Homo sapiens: one gene and its partner. The protein of the gene in region 1 interacts with the protein of each later gene in a pairwise test. Each region holds a gene or a part of one and is shown in the gene's direction. Other genes may lie near its edges.

Region 1 (8,161 bases):
TTGGGTCAATTTCTCATTTTCCTATTATGTTTTATTGGTTTTTTATTCATGTGCCAGTGCCAACTATTAAGCTTTAAAGGTTTTATAATGCTTTAGTATCTGTTATGATTGTCCCCTCCACCCCTGGCAAAGCTCTCTTTTTCAAGATTTCCTGTGTTTTTCTTATTTCTTTTTCCAACTGAATTTTTTAACAAATTTGTGCTTACAGCCGTGTTCTTAATCAGGGATGTTTATCAGAAGCGTCTTTAGAGTTGAAGAAGAAAAGAAATACTTGACCCCCCACCCAGACATGGTGAATTCTGGACGTTGGGGACATTTGAATTCACATAGTGAATTCTGGACACTGGGGACAATTCTAGATATTTAAAACAATCTCTACAGTTGATTCTGATAATCCCATTTTTAAAAGAGGCCTATAAAGCGTCATAGCCAGGTTTTAATTCCAGACTACTTTATGATTTGTTTTCCCTTATGTATTCTGGCCCATAGTTAATGACTGCAGCAACTACTGTAAGCCAGAAATTTCTCTAGTCCTCTTTCACTCCTTCCTCTTCCTTAATTCTATTTTCAGTTAGTCACCAAACTGAAATTTTACCTCAGAAATATCTGGCTGTAAATCTCCAATGCCACTGTCTCTACCATCATTCTTACGGACTGTTAAGCAATCTCTTAATACTACAGTCTATCATTTGCACTGCCTATACAGTTACTGTTCCCTCAAAACAAGGTCAATCATGCCACTCCTTTGCTAGCCTTTGTTGGCTCTTGTGATAAATTCAACCACCTTACCATGGTACTTAGGCCTTTTACTGTCAGGTCCCAGCCTTCATCTTGGTCATGACATCCCTATCATTCCTTTATCTCTGTCCTTCCCCATACTGAATATTCCCGCATACAGAATTTCTCACTAGTGGATGGACACCAGATCTAGTATCTCTGCATATTTACACTTGTTGTTTCTTTCACTTAGAAGACCACCTCCCACCCCGAACTTCTTTGCCTGGTAAGCTCTCAGTATTTGAGATGCAGTTCAAATAACATCTCTTTGATAAAGCCTTTTCTAGTCTCTCAGTGAGAATTAGTTGCCTCATCCTCTTTATTCTCACAAAACTTTATTATTTGTATCTTTATAATGTGATTTATATGAGTCTCTAATCTCCCAGGCATTTCACACTTTGTACATCAACCAGAATGTGAGCTTTTCATGTTTTTCCAGCCTCTAGCATAGCGCGTAGCATATAGCAAGCACTCAAATGTTTGTTCAATGAATGAAAACAAATAAAGCTTCATTAGGCTGTAATGATTGAAACAGAAACAAGATATAACAGTGGCCAGCTTGTTATACTGTTGAGATCTCTCGTTTGTTTTTCTTTGTAGTCAGCCTTCCTAGACTTCATTCTCTGTACATAGCAATTTCTTACTCTTTGAGGAACCATCTACAATACCCATAGTAGTAAGTTAGATAGCCATCCAACTCTATATCTACCTATTTAAGAAGTTCTGTCTTTGTCGTAAAAACAGATGCTGCTTTACAGAAGAAAGTGCAACAATTTAGTCCATATTGGTGGCATAGTCTGTGGGATAGGTAAATAGGTATAGAATTTCAGAGTTAATTATTCACTAAAATTGGAAAAGATCTGCTTGATCATTAAATTCTATCACAATTATGTACATGATGAAGCACTAATACAGATGATGATCTTGGGTAGAAGACGAAGTCCTGTTGGGAGTTAAATTATTTTATAACTATAGCAACTATTTTATCTGAAGTTTTCCCCCTCAACTGTATGATTATGTTATAATCTCTGAAATGATAAAGTATGATAACATGAAAAAGGGAAGGAATCATATTTTAAAAATAATTTAAGCACAATTTCTTAGTAAGAAGGTATCAAATACTTGGAGTAATCCAGTTTAAAATTTCTAGGAAATCATTTTTTTTTAAGAAGAATCAGTTTAAAAATACAGATTAAATTGAATAATTTTAATTTGTATATCTGAATTACCAAATAACATTAAATAATTTTAAATATATATTTTAATATAAAATTAAAGTTTTTATTATTTTTATTGAAATAGAGAAATATATTTATGAATTTGAGATACCTATGTCAGTCTTTCATTTAGCAACTATTTTGTTAATTATTGATTTCCATATAACTTCACCATTGGGAATGTCACATATTTCCTGAAGTATATAACGAGCCCTTCATAATAAAAATATATTTTAAAATGTCTTTAGAAGACATTAAAATCAAGGTTTTCACTGTCACCCCTTTTCCCCTTTTTTCCAACCTTTTGATGATGATAAGATGTATTTTGTTATAAGTTACTTCCTTGTGCAATCAAGTAAAAGACAACTTTGGGTTGTATATGGCTCCAGCTTGAAATTGCATATACATATTCTTATAAAAATTTTTGAATTATGATTCTAAAATTACTCAGGGGAATGACTGGAGTTTTTATATAGTAGTTAATCACTTTCATTACATATATTGTTTTTTCTGTAGATTAGACATATTTCCACAATTTAAATTAATGAATTTTATTACTTTAAATTATTTTTTTTCACAGGTTTCTTTTCTAAAATCCAGGCAATGTAAATTACATATCATTATGAAACCATTGTTTGGGAAACCAGTGTGGCATCTGCAATCCCAATATTTCAAAATATTATTGGAACCAAAAATTGAACCATGCTTTGCAGTATATTGTTTGAAGTATTTAAGCAAAGGATGTATTCTTAATTATTCGAGTTACAGTGTGCCACTTAACTTTATTTCAAGCGAGGTATATTTTGGGAGAATTCTTTATGAAAATCAAGATAACTTGAATCTAGCACTTTTTCCTTATCTTTTCAAAATTAAATATTTTCAACAGTAATGCTAATGATTAGGTAAAGTGTCAGTAATAGATTGTTAAAACATTAATATTCAATACTTTACGCATAGAAATATCAGTGTATTCCATTTTTTAGTTCCACATACTTAAAAATATTATTTATTTAATGACCACCATTATAGAACAATGCATTAACTTTTTTGTATGTGACTTGGGATAGAAGTCTTAGATACTAAGTGCATTCATACTTATATTTTAATCTATATTTTTCTTCTGGAACATTATTAGTAAATTTTGAGATTATAGAACTGTTGACCCAGTCATACATGTACAGAGCTTGGCCTCCGAGTTAATTAAATATGAGTTAATAATATATTATAAGGAAATTATTGTCCTTATTACAGTTATTAGGTAGTTACTCAAATTATAGCTTGAAAGGAATGCAGAGCATGGAAAACTCAGGATTAAATTATGCATTTGAACCTTAGGCCAGTTTTTACTGTAGAGACAGTTTGCTGCTAAAAGAGAAATTGTATGTCATTGAAATTAAATGCTTTTCTGGGGATGGAAGATTCCAGTTTTTAATGAAATTACTGAGTGTGGTGTAGTGAAATGATTAAAATCTGTATTCCGGGAATGTGGCAGGGAAAAAAAATCAATAAGTGCTAGCACAGCTTTGCTGCTCAATGTGAATCCTGAGAATGAAATAAACTACTACAAAAATAATAATTAAAAACATATCAGCACATTAATTTATTTAGCATCAGTCTCCTGAGACATCATCTTCACTAATTTTTAGCATACATTTTACTCTGTAATGAGCAGCCTTCTTTTCAGATATCCCTATTAGACAGGCAGTATTTCTGCCCTTCCCCCAGTGCTCCTGCATTGCAATCATTGTACTTGCACTTATTATGTTACAAATGACCGAGGTAAGGCTGACATTCTCAGTGCATGCAAAAAGACCGAGTCTGCCAAGCTTTTTTTTTTTCCTAATGAAGCAGCTTTGTGAAATCTCCCCATGTGTTAATACTAATGAAGATCCTCCAGCACAATTAAAATCACAGCCAGTGGCTGAAGAGGAAACATAAAACAATAGCATCTTTTAAGATACATTTATCCACATATGTATAAAATATACATAGATGATCAAATTATTCTCCGATAGCTTAATTTTTACTTACTCTTCATCCTGAAAATTAAATTATGCAATTTTTAATTATATGAACTTTGAGACTTTCTTGTGTTCTGGAGGGAAAAAACGGTACCTCAACGAACTTCTAAAAAAAAAAATACGTATCTTCTTGGCTAATAAAGTGTTATCAAGATTAAGGCTTTTAAAAAAATTGTTTTTAGGAATCTATAGGATGGGGTGCGGGAGGGAATGGGGCCTATTGTATCTTTAGTTTAACTTGATTGGTTGCAGGATTTGGGAATTGGGGTTGGGGGAGTGGAAGGGTAAAAACAAAGTTGGAAGAGATTCTGGGGGTAGACCATAGCATATGACTGCATTTGTAGTTTAAAGGAGCAAAGGGCTACCAGTCTTACTCATAACTTGATTTTTAAAAAGTGTTCAGTGCCTACAATTTGCTATGCTTTTTTTCTAATCTCTCAGAAACTTGAAAAAAAGCTATCGAGATTACCTTTTACAGTGTGTGCATATAACTTTAAAACGACTATTTTAACGTCTTTTATTTAAATTTTATTTTAACTTAGTGCATAAACATTACAGCCAGTTTAACTTGTCCGTGGAAAGGCAGTAGAATTTTACCCCGGGACCGTCTTGCATACTGCTTTTTTTGAGTTTTAACATCCGCAAAATCTTGGCATATTAATTTAGTTGGGTTGTAGAATTCTGAGTTTAGGAACAAAAAAAATTTAGGTGGAGATGGTTGACCTATGCTCCCTACTCTGTAGCTTTTGTTTTTTTAAAAACTAAGTTTTAAATCCCGTTTTCTGTCCTGTCTTCTTTAAAAGCAAAACAAAACATTTTAAGTTTCTTAACTTTTTCCTGGGACAAGGAACGGTGCAAACTCAAAGCTACAGTATTCTTGGAAAGAAGAAGCAACCCCCTCCCTTGGCTCCTTTAGGAGCTGATAGGTCATTTATTATTGGAACTGAAATGGTATAAACAATTCTCTCTCTTTTTTTCCCTTGTTAACAGCAACTTTCATTGTTAGAGAGAGGAGAGAGAGAGAAGCCTTGTTGGTTGACGTCACTTGGTTCATGAAGCCTTCGCCTAGAAGTGAAGCTGCTGAACAAACCTTGAGAAGAATCATCTCCTGCTTCAATCTGCTGCTGGATAGGAACTAATCAGAGAGAGAGAGGCGGAAGACGGAGAAGGAGGGAGTCGAAGGCTTTCCCGATCACAAATCTCACCTCCACTACAACTCTCTTTATACTTTTCTTGCAGAAATAATAATAGAAATAAGGAGGTGGTGGGGTTTCCAAAAATCTTAACCTTCAACCATCTGGGGAAAAGGCAAAAATCCCATCTACCGCAACTCTCAGTTCGAGAGTAAAGGTGAGTTTAAAATCCTCGGGCGTGAGGGGTGCGGGTGAGGATGTAAATTCCCAGTGTTACAAAGCCGGTGGAAACAGCAGCGGAGAAACTGCGCTCGGGCAAGCGGGGGACTCCGGAGTTGCTGCGTGGAGGCGCTCGCCCCGCCGCCCTCTCGCCCTCCGCCGCTGTTTATCCTCGCCGGTCGGTGCGGCTCTTTGTTGTGGTGGCCGGAAGGCTGGGGTGGTTCTCGGGGTCCCGAGTGGAGTTTGGGGGAGGAGGACACGGAGATGTGCCGTCCTGGGTGGGAGGTGGGGGGTGCGGCCTCAGGAGAACGTAAACTTTATTCCTAGAAGCCGGTGCGGGACTTCGCTGGAGTAGGGCCGTGGGTTGTGCTCCCGGCCGGGCAGGCGCTGCCGCCGCGAGTCCGCCGCCTTTGTGCCGGCCGCCCTGGCTTCGCGTCTCCTTCCTCTTCCCCTTCGGCTTCCAGCGCTCAGGTCGCCGCCAACAGTTTTGCTTCTTAAAAAACAACCTCTGTCAGCGTTGCGATGGCCGTTCCTACCCCGGAATATCCGCTGCTCCCCCACTCCCTGCCGGGGTAGTTTCTGGATCACCCCCCACCCCCGTCCGCCTCCTGCTGCCCTTTTTTGCCTCCGCCCCCTCTTCCCTGTCGGACTGACGAGCTGCGTCTGCCACCCCCACTCCCCGGCTTGGGCCTCTAGCTCTCCCGTGTGTAGCTGGAGGCTCTGAGTTTACTGAAGATGAGCGGGGGTGGGGGTGGGGCAGGTGGGATTGGGAAAAGATCTGGATACCTGGGAAGGTCTATGTCAGCACGCAGAAGGTTTGAGGAGCATTGCTTCTCATACAGTAAGGTCTGTGCCTTGGTCTCATGTTTTAGCAGTTCTTCCCCGGGAACGACCGCCAGCTCCCAACTCCTCTGCTTCCCTCTTTTAATCTTCTTGTCGCTACCCCTCCCCCCAGCCCCCGTTCTCTTTCGCGGCTCCCTCCCCTTTAAGTAGTTTCACGAACCCCAGAATTGGGATTTGAGAAGGGGAAGGAAGTGTTTGAAGAGTCAGAGCTGGCTCTGTTGTTTGGGAGATTTTCTCTTCTTTTCTTTCTCCCTCTGTATTTATCTTTTGTCTGTTGCTTCCTTATAAAGAGGGAAGCAGCTGCAGTCCTTGGCCGAGTTGTTGAAATTTATCCCTTTGTGTATATTACAATATCCTCCATTTTTTTTCCTGCCCTCTAAACAACAAGCGTTTCGCCATCTTGGGCAATTTTATTCCCAAGTCTCTCTCTTTTTTATTTTTGAGGAAAGGAAAGAAGTATTAGGAAGTGTGTCTGGATAAGTCTCAAAGTTTAGGGAATGTTCAGGGGGCCCAGTGACGTCATGTAAACTTTACGGAGAAATTTTCCCAAGAGTAAATTTTTTGCTTAATTTTTCTCCTGTTTTATAGGATTGTGTAACTTACAGGTTACTGATAAGTTGTGTGGCTTATTTTTGTGTTTTGCTCTCAAAATCAGTATACGAAGTCTGCGTATTGTATGTTTTGGTAACAGGTGGAAGATTATATGCAAAAAATGGTAAAAAACTTGTGCGTCATTTGTTATTTATCTGGTTTTTGTGTACTTTTTTTTTTAATTTAAAGGTTTCAACTGTTATCTGTAGTCAGTATATTCCCTTTCTTATTTGCTCCACTCTCCCTTATGGATTTTTTGAAAATTAGCTTGGTTAATATTTATGTATGGTTATTTTAGATTATCTGGCTCCCCGTTTCTAATAAAATGTTCTGGGGTTTTCTTTTTCTATTATTTATTTACATTTTGAAAAGAAATGACTATGGAAAATACCTTAAGATAATGGATACTTTAAAATTTAGTAGCAGATATTAAGTCAAACAATTATTGAGTATTTAAGAGGCAGAATTGATTTTAAAAGTTATTTTATAATCGCTAGCTATAAACTCTTTGTCAGCCATTATGAACAGATAAACAAAAACTAGCACTGTTTTAATTTGCTTGTCTAACATAGTTTTTCGCCTCACAAAAGTTGGTTTGGTCACATGACCAAGCTTAATGATACACTGACTAGTATATAAATAAGAGGCACTGTATATTGAATGGGAAAGTGGAATTCTGTCTCCTGTAGTCATTTTCAGTCAGCATATTTACATCTCTTCTAACAAGGACATGAAACTGTCTGTATTTAATTTGCATTCTCTTTGTCTTCTGGGTTGAGGGAAAAACACTGACTACAATTAACTTAAAAAAAGCTAATAGAAACAATTCTGAATACATTGAAAAGGTTTGTGTAACACACAGAAATTTATGTTCTATATGGTAAGTTTTTATTTCTGTAGCAGTCTTCTTTGGTGTTATCTATTTATCCAGGAATTTGCTTCATGTAATATGCTATATAGAAAGCTTGACTGAGTTGAGTGTCTGCCATTTATGTGAATTGTAGGTAGGTGAAAAATGTTTAAATAGTTAAAAGCACATAGAACAGATGGTTCTAAATTATACATGCAACAAAGGACTAGAAGATTTGGCAGATTATAAATGGCAAGCAACAGAGGATAAGCAGTTTAAGAAAATGGTAGTTAAGTACATTTGATGTCTCACACCTATTGTAAACACTGTACATATTATTGTCACTCTGCTGCATAATCAGTAATTTGGACAACATTAAGACACTCGTATGGTTCAGATAGAAAAAAGTAATTTTTACAAGTATTTGAAACAAGTGGTTGAATTTAAAATTATTTTAAGCCTACGATGATGAAGAGTCTTTTTTTTTTTTTTTTTTAGAAAATCAGATTG
Region 2 (7,306 bases), about 82 Mb from region 1:
AAAAACAAATAAGACTTGTAATAACCCAGGAAAACAAAAAGTTATCCAGAAAAGTGAAAACAATCCTATTATACCACTTCGTCCAGCTGTAAATGGCAATATGTAGTCATAATATAAACAATCAATACTGAACTAACCAAATTAAGGATATATCACTTTGGGCAGCCATGGATCCGTTTGCACTGAGAAGGCAGAGGGTGAAAGAAAGCTAGGAACTTCCTACCTATTCTCAGTGTCAAGCGAAGAGACATCACATGAAACAGGGGTAGGAGACACAAATACAGACGTCAAGCAAATATGCTCTTTAGAGTTGGAGGCAAAGATCAAGGAAATCTACTAAGGCTGAAGTAGATACTCTGCAGGGGAGGAAACATGATTAGGGGAAGGATGTTGGCACTTCTTTCTTACAAGCCTTTCTAGGATTATCTGACTCTACAAATGACATGAAGCTGTAACCTTGATTTGAAATAAGATTAATATGAATGCTAATAAAAAGTAGTAAGGGAGAGTATGTAGTCAATGTATTCTTACCAAATTAACAACAAGTATCAACAAGATGACTAACACAACCACATGATGTCCAGACACGTCTCAGAACAAATGTCTAGCTCATCTTCAACGGTATTCGAGGAACTTCAGTGTGCTTGGTAAAACAATAGCCTACTAGGGATTTCACTTCTAAAATGTCTCTGACTTTAGAAATACCAAAAAATAACATGTAACCAAGTTTTAAAATATTATACACATGAAAAAAGGTTCTTTTCATTATTTTCTTGGTTTCCAGATGTTGAACGTTGTGGTGCTTTTACAATTGAAGAGAAAAAGCATTCTGACACATTATACTGGTTGGGGTTCTCTGCTTTTCTACTTGGTCAAAAACCTTTACACGCATTTTGGACTTTGTGTCATCATAACTTGGCAATTGGGAAAGCCGCATGATATGCTTCTTTCAGAACTTGGTTACTTCTTACCAAAAGAGGGAAAAGCTTTCGTATCACCATTTGCCTATGGGATGGATGCACAATGAACGGGCCATACCAAATAAAAATATCACTTTGTACTCCAAAAAGCATGTTCTCTGCTTAAGCCCTTTCTGTAAGTTTCAGCTGGGACGCACTAATGGAGAATCCATATGACCCACGAAGGATCGTAAGATATCCCAGTGGACCCGGCACAATCATCTCAAATTCTGTTCAGGTCAGAGTATCTTAGATAAAACTCACTGAAGGGCATCAAGTCCTTCAGTACACAGTCTGAGCCAAGCCCTCTACCATTTGCCATGGCAAGAGTATACCAAATTCTAAACCTGTTGCTCACGTATGCCACCAACTATAAATGTCAGCCTCCTCTTTCCTAGTCTTCCTGTCCACTCAGCACCACCTGGAAAAACTCTTACTCGTCTTTTAAACCGCAGTTCAAGGACCACATTCTGTAGGAAGACTTTCCAACAGGTAACCACTGCCTATTTCCTATGTCCACACCTTACACATATTTCTATCATTGCACTTATCACACCATAATGTAATTACTCTTCTACAAATAAGTCTCTCACACTAGACCACAAGCTGCCTGAGGAAAAGAAAAGTCTATATCCTCTTTTTTTGTTGGCTTTTTGAGACACAGTCTCACTCTGTCGCCCAGGCTAGAGTGCAGTGCTACAATCTCGGCTCACTGCAACCTCCGCCTCCTGGGTTCAAGCGATTCTCATGCCTCAGCCTCTTGAGCAGCTGGGATTACAGGCGCGCGCCACCATGCCAGGCTAATTTTTGTATTTTTAGTAGAGACAGGGTTTCACCATGTTGGTCAGGCTGGTCTCGAACTCCTGACCTCAAGTGTCCACCCGCCTCGACCTCCCAAAGTGCTGGGATTACAAGCGTGAGCCACTGCACCTGGTCGAAAAGACTATATCCTCTCAACCTTTGTATCTGCAGAACCCTTAACCCTACACAGCAATTTCCAGCAAATATTTTTTTGAATTGAAATGAAGAAGTGAGGTCATGAGGCTGAAGTCAGACAACTGGAAGGCCAAAACAACAAAACCTGGAAAAATACGTATTTACTCAAGAAGAAATTCTCCCACCAGGCCACTGAGAAGTTAGCTTTGCCCACTGGAGAGGACACTGTAACAGGGATTCAAGTAAGCCTAGTGGCGCTGAGGGACGTGATATAGGTCAACTATATCTTTGAGGTGCTCTCCTTACACTCAATGCACTTTTACCCGAATGACGTTAATTTGACTCCTGATAAGATGAGCTAAGTCCCTTCAACAGTGCTTGGCACCAAGCAAAACTAATAGCAGTAACAGGAAAGTTTAATCCTCATGATGAATTATTTAATGGGGTTTCAAACGCTGTCCCTGAGACTTGAGGCAGTAGGCTCCAGCTCCATTTTCCCCAAGTCTAAAACTTGATAGGTTGATGTTTCAGACTCAGAGATTCGGTAATCCAAATGATGGAAATAATTCTTACCCAAACACCTTTTCAACTATTTTTAAATACTGTTGCCAAGCATCCTAATATCATGTGTACTTAATGAATTTAGCCTAGGGATACTTTTACATGTCAAAAAATCAAAATATAAACCTAAGCACTACGTTTCATCCAGTGTTTCAGCATCCCAGATTTGCTTCCCTAAATGAACATTAAGCTTATTATGCAATGTGCCGCTACCAGGAGCCTTAGACAAAACCCTAATTGTGACTTAACCTATCTTAATAGGGTTTTAAGGAAGTTAGCTGCTAAGAAAGTGACTATCCTTAAGCAGACACCAAATAAATGTGAAGTCATTGATTGAGGGCTTAGGGTATAGGTAGCTATGAATCTGAGGACATAAAACGCAAAACTGAGGGGCAAATCGTCATGTTCCTTAAGATTACGACTCATCCACATTCCTTCAGCCGTTTAATTTCACCATAATAGGCACTGTTTAATAAGCAAAGCCCAAGTCGACTTCCTTCGATTTTACATGGCGTCCAAACACCATGTCAAGTCTGACCCTCTCATTTTTTAAGTCGAATGGAGAGGATATGTAGCAGCTAGCCTTGAGCACCTAACCACTTTTCAAAGGAGCTACGCACAAAAATACCCTAGCAACATGCCACGGTGTCAGAAAGGCTCAGGTTCCCAACACCATGCGGGTCAGCCATTAGGAACTCAGGAAGTGTTTCCTCTAAGCGGGGGAAACCTAGGAAGGCTTCCTGAACGAGGGGTATTTGCGCCAAGCCTTGACGTGAGTCTCGAACAGTTGCAGTGCCTCCAGGCCACGCGGGAGGGAGGAAAGGACACCCCGGGCCGGGGCACAACCCGCGGGCCGGAGCCGCCCGCGCCCATCCCGCTCAGGCCGCAGCCAGGCACGGCACCCTCCCGTCCCCGAGCCACGTCGCTGCTCGTGGGCTCGCGGAGCACTCCCCAGGTCTCACCTCGGGCCCCACACCAGAAGGAGAAAGCTAGGGGCCGCGCCAGCTCCGCCCTCCCCCGCGGGGCGGCGGGCCCCAGCCCGGGCACAGGAAGGCCACGTCCCCGGGGAGGGACGCCCGACTCGATGGTCTGCGCAGGGCCCGTCGGCCCCACGTGACGTGCGCGCAGCCAATCCCAGAGAGGCCCCCCGATCATCGAGACGGCGGCGGTGGTGGGCTAGACGAGTTTCGCGCGGCCGCTCGCCGTCCCCCGCCCAGTCGTACTCGGCGCCCCAGCTCGGTGCTGCCGCCATCTTCTTGGAGGACAGGAGGAGAGGCGAAGGCTCCCCCTCCCCGTGATCGCTCCGCACTCCCGCCACCACCTGCCCTCCCGCGACCGCCTCTCTCCTCCTCAGTGGGCACTTGTCTCCTTCTAACAAACGGCCTTCCCCCCACTCCAGTTACCCACCGCAAGGCGAAGATTCTCATTACCTGTTCCACTCTTATAAGCATAAGAAAACCGAGCTCATAAGGTAGGAACTGTGGCGAAACAGGGACAAGCCGCCATCTTGGTAAAGGAGAAGAGGCTACGCTTGACCTCCCCCCCCACCCCCAGCCTCTATATGGCCAACTGCCGTGGGAGGAGCACGGCGCTTGCGCAGAGGCGGACAACGCGGACGACTCTGGGCTTGCGCACTCGGAAGCCGGCCGCATGGGGGAGGGGAAGAAGGCCAGGTCGCACTGAGCCAGGAAGCAGTTGGCAAAGGGGCGGGGTGACGCGGTGACGCAATCCGCCTGCGCGCTGGGCGGGGCGGGGCGGGCTGGGGCGGGCTGTGAGCGGACCGCGAGCGCTGGGCGGGTCCGCGGCGCGGTCGGTCGGCGCCTGTTCTCGGGCTGTTTGGCGGGTGAGTGTCTCGCCGGTGTACCCCGCACAAGTTGTGGGCCGGCCCTCCCGAGGAGCTGCGGGGGACGCGCCGCTCGTCCCATACTCTCGGGCGGTGGTCGGCTGGCTCTGGGGTGCCGGCGGGGCGGTGTGGGGGAGGGGCGGCCGAGCCCAGGCTCTTCGGCACTTATCGTGGGCTCCCCCGTCCCGGGCGGTCCTAGTGCCGGCGACAGTGGCTCCGACACGGGCAGGCCCGGGCGCGGGAGTGGGGATTCCGGTGACCCCTTGTTGACCCTGCGGGAATTCCTCTGCACTGTCGTCGGTGCTGGGCCTCGGGGCGTCGAGTGCGGTCGAGGTCGGGAGGTTTGGTGCTTGGAGGGAGGATACAGGTTTAGGCCCGACAAACACTTAGAGCTTGTGTGGCCATCTTGTCTTTCTAACGGTGCCATTTCCTCCCTGAGGCGTGGAGGACTGGCCAGCCCCCAAACCTCCAAGCCCATCGGCTGGATGCCGTGGATAAGCGAGGGGAGAGCGACTAGGCCCTGTCTGCGGGTACCTTCGGCGAGGAGAGGCGACGAAGGTCTGCACCAGCGAGGCACGGACAGGCAGCAGGGGGTAGGGTATAGGGTTGGAGGCCGCCGAGTTGGCCCGGGGATGAGGAGCAAACCTGTGGCTTCCGTGGTCTCAGTGGAGTCCCAACTGTGACCTGGCCTACTGGCCCAGACAAACCTGGCTTGCTTTTTTACCTTTTCGGTCTAATTCTTGTCAGTGCCACCAGACCTTGTCCTCTCTCCACGGAAACACACGAACCAACTACACTGAACTTCTTGTAGTTCAAACTTCTGCACCTTTGGCCATTGCCCAAACTCTTAAATCTGGCTACTTCCCACCTTAACTGCCTTCTCCTTACCTAGTCTGTGCTTGTGGGATTCCGCCCAAATTAGATTTCCTCCAGACAGGCTTAGGTGTTTACCTGATGTTCCAGATGGTATTTGTCCAGTGGACTATTGGTGCTGTGAGGGCAGGGCACATGTTGTCACCCATACTCATTGCCTCGGTTGGTGTCTAGCACCTAGTAGGTTCTCAAATACTTTTTGAATCACAGTGCCTGCCGATATATTTAATGTTTCAAAATAGTTCTGCCGTCATAAAGAAAAACATCATGGTGTAGGGGTCATGAAAGCTGATTCTTGATACTTCTGATTTGAGCCTCATTGTTTTCAGTGATTTTTGATAGCTCCCATTAATGGGTTCTTTGCACCACCCAGCATCCTAACTCATGATGTGTACTGTTATGTATAATCTTGGCATTGATCTCATTAGCTATAAAGGTTGTCCTGATTTTTTTTCCTCAACTTCCACCTTGATTTCTCTCACCAGTGCCACAGCCAGGAATAAAGAACAAGAGCGTTTTAATTAGATCAGATTTACATTCTGACTGGCTCTTAAACTAGCAAGGTGACCTAGGGAAAGGGGCCAGGGTTTCCCTCTATCATTCATAAATGTAATTCAGGGCCCCTTTTTATCCCCAATACCAGCATACAGAAACTGCTGTAAAAGAAGAAGTTGTGGGTATTTTTTTTTTTTTTTTTGTCTGGAGGAATGGGGACACCAAAACTCATTTGGCAGCAGAGGTGAGGTAAGGCCATTTGTATTGTCTGTTCTGTTAGTAGTCATACATGCCACTTATCCCTGCCCCAGTCCCTGTTAGGAGTGTTATGTGGGTATACTGAACGTGGACCTTCCCCGAATCCAAAGAATCCAGATGCTTTGAATAAGATCATGGACCTTCCGGGTTCTACATCGCCAGATGTTGTTCATCTTCTATCTTTTGTTTTGCGAAAATTGGTTTTTTATGTGTATTGGGGTTATTCTGTGGAAGAAATAAGCTGTGGGTCAAGATTAAAGAACTTTAAACAACTTCTGGCATGTGGAATAAACACGATCTGAAGGAACAAAATTTTCATTTGACTACATTTTTGGTCCAATTTGCACCCAGTGTTTAAGTTAATCACAGTGCTTGGCAGTTTGTGTTGCTGGATCAAGGCTTTCTCACTGAAAACCATGTGCTTCAGAGGTTCATAATTCCTCTTTCACCTTCCATTTCACATTAGTTAATAAATTATGAGAGAAAACATTGTGGATCCAAGTTATGTTTCAGAAAAAAAAAAACAGGAAAAAAAAAAGATGGCAGGAGAAACTTGGTAAAGTCAAAGCAAAGTTGAAATGTCAGTTTAAGACAAATAGTTTCTCCATTTTCCCATATGTGTGCACAGGGTTCAGTGAGGCTGAGGGGTTCTGTGGAGGTGCGGGAGAGGTGCTCTATGGTATTTCTATGTTGCACTGTGTGGGTTTGAAATCAGATACATGTAATAGGTGATAAGGTAAGTGCCTGCTCTTTTCTATCCTCAGCATTGGCATTTAATCTTTCCATGTGAACTTAAAGCTCATTTTATCCAATCCTTTAAGAAAAAAGCCACACCGTTAGGGATTCCAGTTAGAAATGGACTAAATAACATACTCATTTGGGGAAAATAAAAATGATTTGATTTATGTAGGACCTGTTTTCTAGTTTGGTCCCTACTTGTTTGGATTTTTAAAAATTCTGTTGTAAATGATGTGCCCCCATTTCTATTCCTTGATATTTGTTGCTGGTACTTGACTTACTTGAGATCTTATATTTAGCTACCTTACTAAATTATCGTATTCTAGAATTTTTTTAACCAGAGTATTTGTATTTTCTTTTTTTTTTTTTTTTTGAGACAAAGTCTTGCTCTGTTGCCAGGCTGGAGTGCAGTGGTGCGATCTCAGCTCACTGCACCCTCCACCTCCCGGGTTCAAGTGATTCTGCCTCAGCCTCCTGGGTAGCTGGGATTACAGGCAGGCGCCACCACACCTGGCTAATTTTTGTATTTTTGGTAGAGACGGGGTTTCACCATGTTGGCCAGGATGGTCTCAATCTTTTGACCTCGTGATATGCCCGTCTTGGCCTCCCAAAATGCTGGGATTACAGGCATGAGCTACCGCAC

What was found.
Region 2: the proteins of BAZ2B (region 1) and SEPTIN2 interact in binary tests that used the Homo sapiens proteins (3 or more experiments, as listed by UniProt).

The regions. Positions count from the first base shown.
Region 1 is NC_000002.12:159,613,446-159,621,606, reverse strand, and holds the start of BAZ2B (bromodomain adjacent to zinc finger domain protein 2B), read left to right. Parts: upstream 1-5,058; 5' UTR 5,059-5,365; exon of another isoform or gene 5,366-6,313; intron 6,314-8,161. UniProt on the Homo sapiens protein: Regulatory subunit of the ATP-dependent BRF-1 and BRF-5 ISWI chromatin remodeling complexes, which form ordered nucleosome arrays on chromatin and facilitate access to DNA during DNA-templated processes such as DNA replication, transcription, and repair.
Region 2 is NC_000002.12:241,311,684-241,318,989, forward strand, and holds the start of SEPTIN2 (septin-2), read left to right. Parts: upstream 1-4,241; 5' UTR 4,242-4,299; intron 4,300-4,494; exon of another isoform or gene 4,495-4,632; intron 4,633-4,738; exon of another isoform or gene 4,739-4,784; coding exon of another isoform or gene 4,785-4,872; intron 4,873-5,815; coding exon of another isoform or gene 5,816-5,916; intron 5,917-6,553; exon of another isoform or gene 6,554-6,661; intron 6,662-7,306.